Linked DNA regions of Homo sapiens. The protein of the gene in region 1 purifies or fractionates together with the protein of each later gene. This does not show direct contact. Each region holds a gene or a part of one and is shown on either strand. Other genes may lie near its edges.

Region 1 (3,656 bases):
AATCTATGAAAGAGATGAAATGATAAGAATAGCGTAAGAGTTTTTAAAAATATAAAAATTGCCCTTTATTTTGGGATGTCTTTCCCATATTTGTTTTTGCTACTGGGGGGTCAGCAGGTGATGATTAAAAATAGATAAAGAAAATACTAGTAATACGAGTACTGCAGATTTATTCTTTTATCGAAATTCAGGAGTCTGAAAATCACTAATTTACCTAATATGATTCAACAAATGAAATTCTTACATTGGTTGAAACATACATACCTCAAGAAATGAGAAAATAGTTATTTGGCACCTTTCTCCAATAAAGTTTTAAAACCAAGCAATTTTTTAAGTACCTTTGTTTTTCTTTACTAGGTTTGTAAATATTATCTCTGTGGTTTTTGTCCTGCGGAATTGTTCACAAATACACGTTCTGATCTTGGTAAGTGAATTTTCTGTGTAACTTTTATCAAATTTATGATATTTAAAATGTTGAATAGGAGTGGTGAAAGGAAAAAAACTGATTATAATTCTGTGAAGTTTTTTCTTAAAGATTTGCTAATAAGTAATTTCTTACTTGGTTTAGATATTTGAATGTATTAATAAATGTCAGTCTGATTAAACATGGTGGCTTAATTAAACATACATGTCTATTTCCACTCCCTCCCAAAACTCCACTTAAATGAAAAAAATTTTAAAAAGATGTATTTGGAAGAGGAGATAACATTAGAGATGTCAGCAAATTTTTGGAAGATGACAAGTGGATGGAGGAGTAGCAGCAAACGCAACAGAGCAGAGCAACCTGTACCCTAAAAGCCTGCAGAAGGGGATACTAAACAGAAGCGAGTGTTTGATCAGCAGAACCCTGGACAGGCTCAGGATTTGGAGGCACCAGGTACCACAGAAGGCAGGGTTGAGTCATGGGGCTGAAAATGAGAGAGATTAGTCTGTAGTCTAGTTCAGGGTTTCTCAACCTTGACATTGTTGACATTTTGAGCCAGTTTTGGAGGGGGCTTTTCATGCATTGTGGGATGTTTAGCAACATCTCTGGCCTTTACCCACTAGATAACCAGTAGCACCCCCTGTTGTGACACCCCAAAATGTCTTCAGACATTGCCAGATGTCCCCCAGGATGCAAAATTGCCACTAGTGTAGGTGGTCCTGTGCATCTGTTGATCTTACTCTCCTCCCCATAGACCCCAGGAGAAGAGAGGGTTATTTTCTGGAGAAATTGGACTAGAGAGACTAGTTTATCTGAACCACAAAATAGAAAAAAATAATTGACTATTTCCTCAATTCTCTCAAGGATGGTACATAACCAGGATCATTCTGGATACATAAAAGAAGTCAATTCATTATGTACAATCTTTGCCTTAGAGCATTAGGAGCATATTAAGGCAGGACCAGTCTAGATCTTGAGATTTCAGACACAGCAGGGGCAGTAGTAAGTTAAAAAAAGAATGTAAAACAGAGTAAATGAATCTATATTTTTATTGGTGGGGCTCTCCTCTGCCCTGTTCCTAGAAGGATACAGCCAGATGTTTTTCCCCAGGCAGAAGAAAAGAGGATTCTTCTCTAGAGAAAGTGAACAGTTCCTGAGAAGTGATCTCTGCAGGTACTGACCCTTGGGGAATCTCTTAAAAGAAAGTCTTACTGCCTGATTTTCCTATGATAAAGCCCATTCATGAGCTGACAAACCCTGCCTAATCCCTACTAACTTCCAGTCAGATTTTGGAAGTGTCTTTTTAAAAAATTAGTTGCTTGCCAAGGACCACCAGCCAGACGTTCGAAGAAAGCCTTCAACACAAGAGATTAACAAAACCAACAGAGAAAGAAGAATTTAGTGGAATTGGAGATAATGGGGAAAGCAGAAGAGAGATTCTTCAAAATCTTAAGAAATTTAGTATCTTCAGAGACATATGAGAAGACACTATATTCTTCAGCAATAATACGATGCCATAAAGAGGGAACTTGTGGAAAAAGTGAAAAACATTTTCTGAAAAACAGCTCTTAGAAATTAAAACTGAAGAAATAGAACTAAAATCACCAGAAAGATTTGAAAATAAAATTAAGGAAATTTACTGGAATATTGGGCAGTACGACAGAAGGATTTTTAAAAAACTTAGTCCAGGAACTGTACTACCAGCTTAATAGTTGTGGACAGAATAAAAGCAGAGGGAATTGCTTAAGAAAAAAAATTTGCAGTACTAAAGGACATTCATCTTTAGGTTGAGCAGGTCCTACAAGTGATCAGGACAGTGAATGAAAAAGATCCATACCTAGGCATACCCCTGTGAAATTTTAGAACACGGGGGTGGTGGGGGTGGGTGTAGGTCACAGAATTATGAATCAGAATGGCCTAAGACTGGTCAGTAACAACGGGGGAAGTTGAAGACATTGGAGAAACATCCTCAGGGTGCTGAGTGAAAATGTGTCTGCCGGAGGGGGAAAAAGACATTTTCAGATATACAGGGTCTCAACTGATTTATCTCCCACGGGCCTTTTCTCAGGAAACTCCACCAAAACATGTCCATAAACCGAGAAAGAGGAAAGAAAAAACAAGAGATCCAGTAATTCTCATCTACTACAGAGCAGAAAAGGAATTCATCAGGACAATAATTCTATAGTGAGCTTAGAAAATAAGTATCCCAGATTGAAGTAAGGCAGAAGGCCCATGGAAGAAAATGAAACTGATGATGTGATATATTTTGAGTCATATGTGAAATTAGTATTGAGATAGTTTCTATAGCTGAGTTTGAAGTGTTTGAGAAGAATTTGAAAATATAGAGAAAAAACTAGGCTCACACCTGTAATCCCAGCACTTTTGGAGGCAAAGGAGGGCAGATCACTCGAGGTGAGGAGTTCAAGAACAGCTTGCCCAACAGGGTGAAATCCTGTCTCTACTAAAAATACAAAAAAATTACGCAGGCATGGTGGTGGGTGCCTGTAATCCTAGCTCCTTGGAAGGTTGAGGCAGGAGAATCCCTTGAACCTGGTGGGCAGAAGTTGCGGTGAGCCAAAATTGCGCCGCTGCACTCCGGCCTGGGCGACAGAGCAAGACTCTATCTCAAAAAAAACAAAACAACAACAACAACAACAGAAAACATCAGAAGTGTCTCATAATGAGCCTTTGTTTGGCCTGACAGTGAATAGTACTTGCATAATATAAGCACCAAGTGTTTATTTATCCAAAAATTTTGATGTCTAGGATTGATAAATAGCAAAATAAGCATAGAATTTTAAAAGGTGGAGGTAAATTCGGGAAGAAATAGAGAAGAGTTAAGATAATTGCTTTTTAGAGGTGGGAAGAAGTAGGGGTTAGGTACTAGTCTAGTGCTATTTGACTTTATATACAGATTTGAAAATAATAAAGTCGGCAATGGTTCAGTTCAGTGGTCTGTCCCCATCAGTTTTCTTTAGTGGCAATAAGGAACAGTTTCCTTTCACCTTCCCTCCTTTTCTCCCTCCCTCCTTTACTTCTCTTTTAACCATATATGGTTGCTGTCCATTATATTGACTTTGAAGACTGAGCAGATCAATTTTATATCCTATTTGGTTATGATGCTTCATGATTTAGTAGGATCAGTTTAGATGTCTACAAACTACTCAGTGATAAAGTGAATCCTTTTTCTTTTTAAAAAGAAAAATAACTCTTTTTTTTTGGCAAGAAAAGG
Region 2 (3,656 bases), on another chromosome or scaffold:
GCCACTGCACTCCAGCCTGGGCAATAGAGCCAGGTCCTTAGACCCTGTCTCAAGGGGAAAAAAGAAAGAAAGAAATAGAGAAACAAATAAAAAGTGTATAGGTAAAGAAAGAATGGTTCATGCCTGTAATTGCAGCACTTTGGGAGACTGGGGCAGGAGGATTGCTTGAGCCGAGACGTACAAGACCAGCCTGGGCAACACAGCAAGACCCCGTCTCTACAAAGAATAAAAGGCTGGCTGGGAGCACTGGCTCACGCCTGTAATCCCAGCACTTTGTGGGGGCCGAGACGGGCGGACTGCTTGAGGTCAGGAGTTTGAGACCAGTCTGGCCAATATGGTGAAACCCCGTCTCTACTAAAAATACAAAAATCAGCCAGGCATGGTGGCATGTGCCTGTAATCCCAGCTACTTGGGAGGCTGAGGCACGAGAATCACTTGAACCCGGGAGGCGGAGGTTGCAGTGAGCTGAGATCATGCCACTACACTCCAGCCTGGGTGACAGAGTGAGACTCCGCCTCAAAAATAAATAAATAAATAAAAGGCATAAATGTTACTTAAGATAATAACAAAATCAGTCCACTGAAGGCAGAACAGGTAATGCATATCCATAGAAAATGAAGGTAGAGGGTGAGTAGAAGTCAAATTATGATGGCGCTTAAGAGGTGAGGACATTATCATTACCTTAATTTGTTCCTCGCTGATACTAGGAGTGTTTTTCAAGAGATTCAGAAAAACTCCACCTGGTGTTCTTCTTCGACTACCATTCTACAAAAAGGAACAGAAAAGGTAAACTGCATATACTCTTCCCATAAATGGTCAAGGCATCTTTTAACAGAGACACAATTAAGGGGATAGAAGAAATACCAGATCTGAAGTCCAGTCCTGATTCTGACTCTTACAAAATAGGTAACATGAGTAAATTACCGAAATATGAGTTTCAGTTTCTTCATCTATAAAATGAAGGCCAAAAATATTTGGTCTTTTTTAATTCTGAAATTCCGTGATTTAAAAAATCTATATGGTAACAAAGAGAAATAGGCCACTCAGCTCAAATGACCTAACAAATGACTGGATTTTCTGTTTTAATCTGCCACCTGGCTAAGTCAGTGAATATTCTTTTTTTTTTTTTTTTTTGAGATGGAGTTTCACTCTTTCGCTCAGGCTGGAGTGAAATGGCGCGATCTCGGCTCACTGCAGCCTCTGCCCTCCGGGGTTCAAGCGTTTCTCCTGCCTCAGCCTCCTGAGTAGCTGGGATTATAGGCACTCCCCACCACGCCTGGCGAATTTTTGTATTTTTAGTAGAAACGGGGTTTCGCCATGTTGGCCAGCCTGGTCTCAAACTCCTGACCTCAGGCGATCTGCCCGCCTCAGCCTCACAAAGTGCTAGGATTACAGGTGTGAGCCACCGCACCCACCATGAATATTCTATTAGATGTTAAAACACATCATAAACTCTAAATAATTAAAACAGTATGGTTCCAAAATAAAACTAGAATGATCAGTGAAGCAAAATAGAAAACCTAGAAAAAAAAGCCAAATATATATGGGTATTTAGTCTATGATACAGATACTATCTTAAATTGGAGAAGATAAATGTATTATTCAAGAATTGGCATTTGAGGCTGGGCGCAGTTGCTCACGCCTGTAATCCCAGCACTTTGGACGCCGAGGCGGGTGGATCACCTGAGGTCAGGAATTCAAGACTAGCCTGGTCAACAACATGGTGAAACCCTGTCTCTATCAAAAACACAAAAATTAGCTGGGCATGGTAGCACATATCTGTAATCCCAGCTACTTGGGAGGCTAAGGCAGGAGAATCACTTGAACCCAGGAGGTGGAGGTTGCAGTGAACCGAGACTGTGCCATTGCACTCTAGCCTGGACGACAAGAGCAAACCTCCATTTCATTTTTTTTTTTTTGAGACAAAGTCTCATGCAAACCTCTATTTCAAAAAAAAAAAAAAAAAAGTTGGTGGTTGAGCTACTGGGTAGCCACCATGGAAAATATTATGTTGGATTCACACCTCATGTCTTATACCAAGATATATTCCAAAGGGATCAAATATTTAAATGTATATATATAATAAATCAGATATATATACACACATACAGTGGCTTCTCAATAGTCATGGTAGTTACGTTTTATAAAGTTGCTGCAAACATTGAATTAGCAAATATTGAAACATTCCTTCTGAAAAATACAGGGTTAGGTTCCTGAAAGCCTCTGATAGACAACACTTTTGTCAACAGATCAGTATATAACCTTGTATGTATCTTGGTTTAAAGACACCTTATTGAAAACATATTGTTGATTCATTAACATTGAATTAGTGGCCAACAGCCTATAACTCATGCCTAAACGATGCTTATCTAACCATATTTTCTCTCTAACGCATGTCACAGTCTTCTTGCACTTAGAAACACTAGTTGGCACTACAGCACTACCCTTGGAGGGGCCATTTTAAACAGCAAAATCCCCAGAGGGGCGCAAAAAAAAAAAAAAAAAAGCACAGAATGTGAAAAAGATGGCACTAAAATAGACCTTGAAAAGAACACCTGTTTATAGTATGGAAGCTGAAACAAAGCAATGTTGCCCTGTTTGACCTCAGCTAAGCATGTGCATGTCGGACAACTCAAATTTTTTTAGACACTGCACATCTGTGAATGACTGTGAAACCACCACTAGTATTGATTTGAGGTTATGAATAACTTTTACCAGGTAGGCAAATTTGAAAATATAAAATCTACAAATAATGAGGATCGACTGAGCATGTATGTCATATACACATAGTCATATAAATTATGATATAACTATTCACTGGAATGCTAGCAACTGCAAAAAAGAATGAGGGGGCTCTCTACATACTTGATAAGGTTTCTAAGAGAAATTAAGTTAAAAAAAAAAAGCAAGGTATAGAATAGTATGCATAGTATATGACCATTTGTGTAAAAACAAGTGTGTTAGGGCCGGGTACGGTGGCTCACGCCTGTAATCCCAGCACTTTGGGAGGCCAAAGTGGGCAGATCATGAGGTCAGGAGTTTGAGACCAGCCTAACATGGTGAAACCTTGTTTCTATTAAAAATATAAAAATTAGCTGGGCGTGGTGGTGTGTGCCTGTAATCCCAGCTACTTCGGAGGCTGAGGCAGGAGAATCGCTTGAACCCGGGAGGCAGAGGTTGCAGTAAGCCGAGATCGCACCACTGCACTCTAGCCTGGGTGACAGAGCGAGACTCCATCTCAAAAAAAATAATGGGTGTTGGAGAGGAGTCTGGGTGGCTCAAGGATAGGTGTGGTCCGGGTAGCCTCTCACTACACACTCTTTTACTGATTTTTTATTGTGATAATAAAGACATGACAAAAAAATTTTGTCATCTTCACAATTTTTAAGTGTACAGTTCAGTAGTAAAGTATATTTACACGGTTATAAAACAGATCTCCAAAACTGTTTCATCTTGCAAATCTGAAACTCTGTACACATAAATTTCCCTTAGCCTCCTCCCTTTAGCCCTTGATACTCTTTCTTGTTTTACCATGTGAACTGGTTGCCTATTCAAATAACTGAATTTTTAAAAATAAGGAAATAGGTACATATACACACTTGTGGCCGGGTGCGGTGACTCACGGGTTGGGTGTTGGGTATTATACCCAACACTTT

Evidence for each region. The genes of interacting proteins can lie anywhere in the genome.
Region 2: the proteins of LUC7L3 (region 1) and PHAX fractionate together in Homo sapiens (co-fractionation; one large-scale study listed by BioGRID). This does not show direct contact.

What each region holds. Positions count from the first base shown.
Region 1 is NC_000017.11:50,736,603-50,740,258, forward strand, and holds part of LUC7L3 (luc7-like protein 3), read left to right. Parts: intron 1-357; coding exon 358-424; intron 425-756; exon of another isoform or gene 757-877; intron 878-1,506; exon of another isoform or gene 1,507-1,597; intron 1,598-3,656. UniProt on the Homo sapiens protein: Binds cAMP regulatory element DNA sequence. May play a role in RNA splicing.
Region 2 is NC_000005.10:126,614,359-126,618,014, reverse strand, and holds part of PHAX (phosphorylated adapter RNA export protein), read right to left. Parts: intron 766-3,656; coding exon 682-765; intron 1-681. UniProt on the Homo sapiens protein: A phosphoprotein adapter involved in the XPO1-mediated U snRNA export from the nucleus.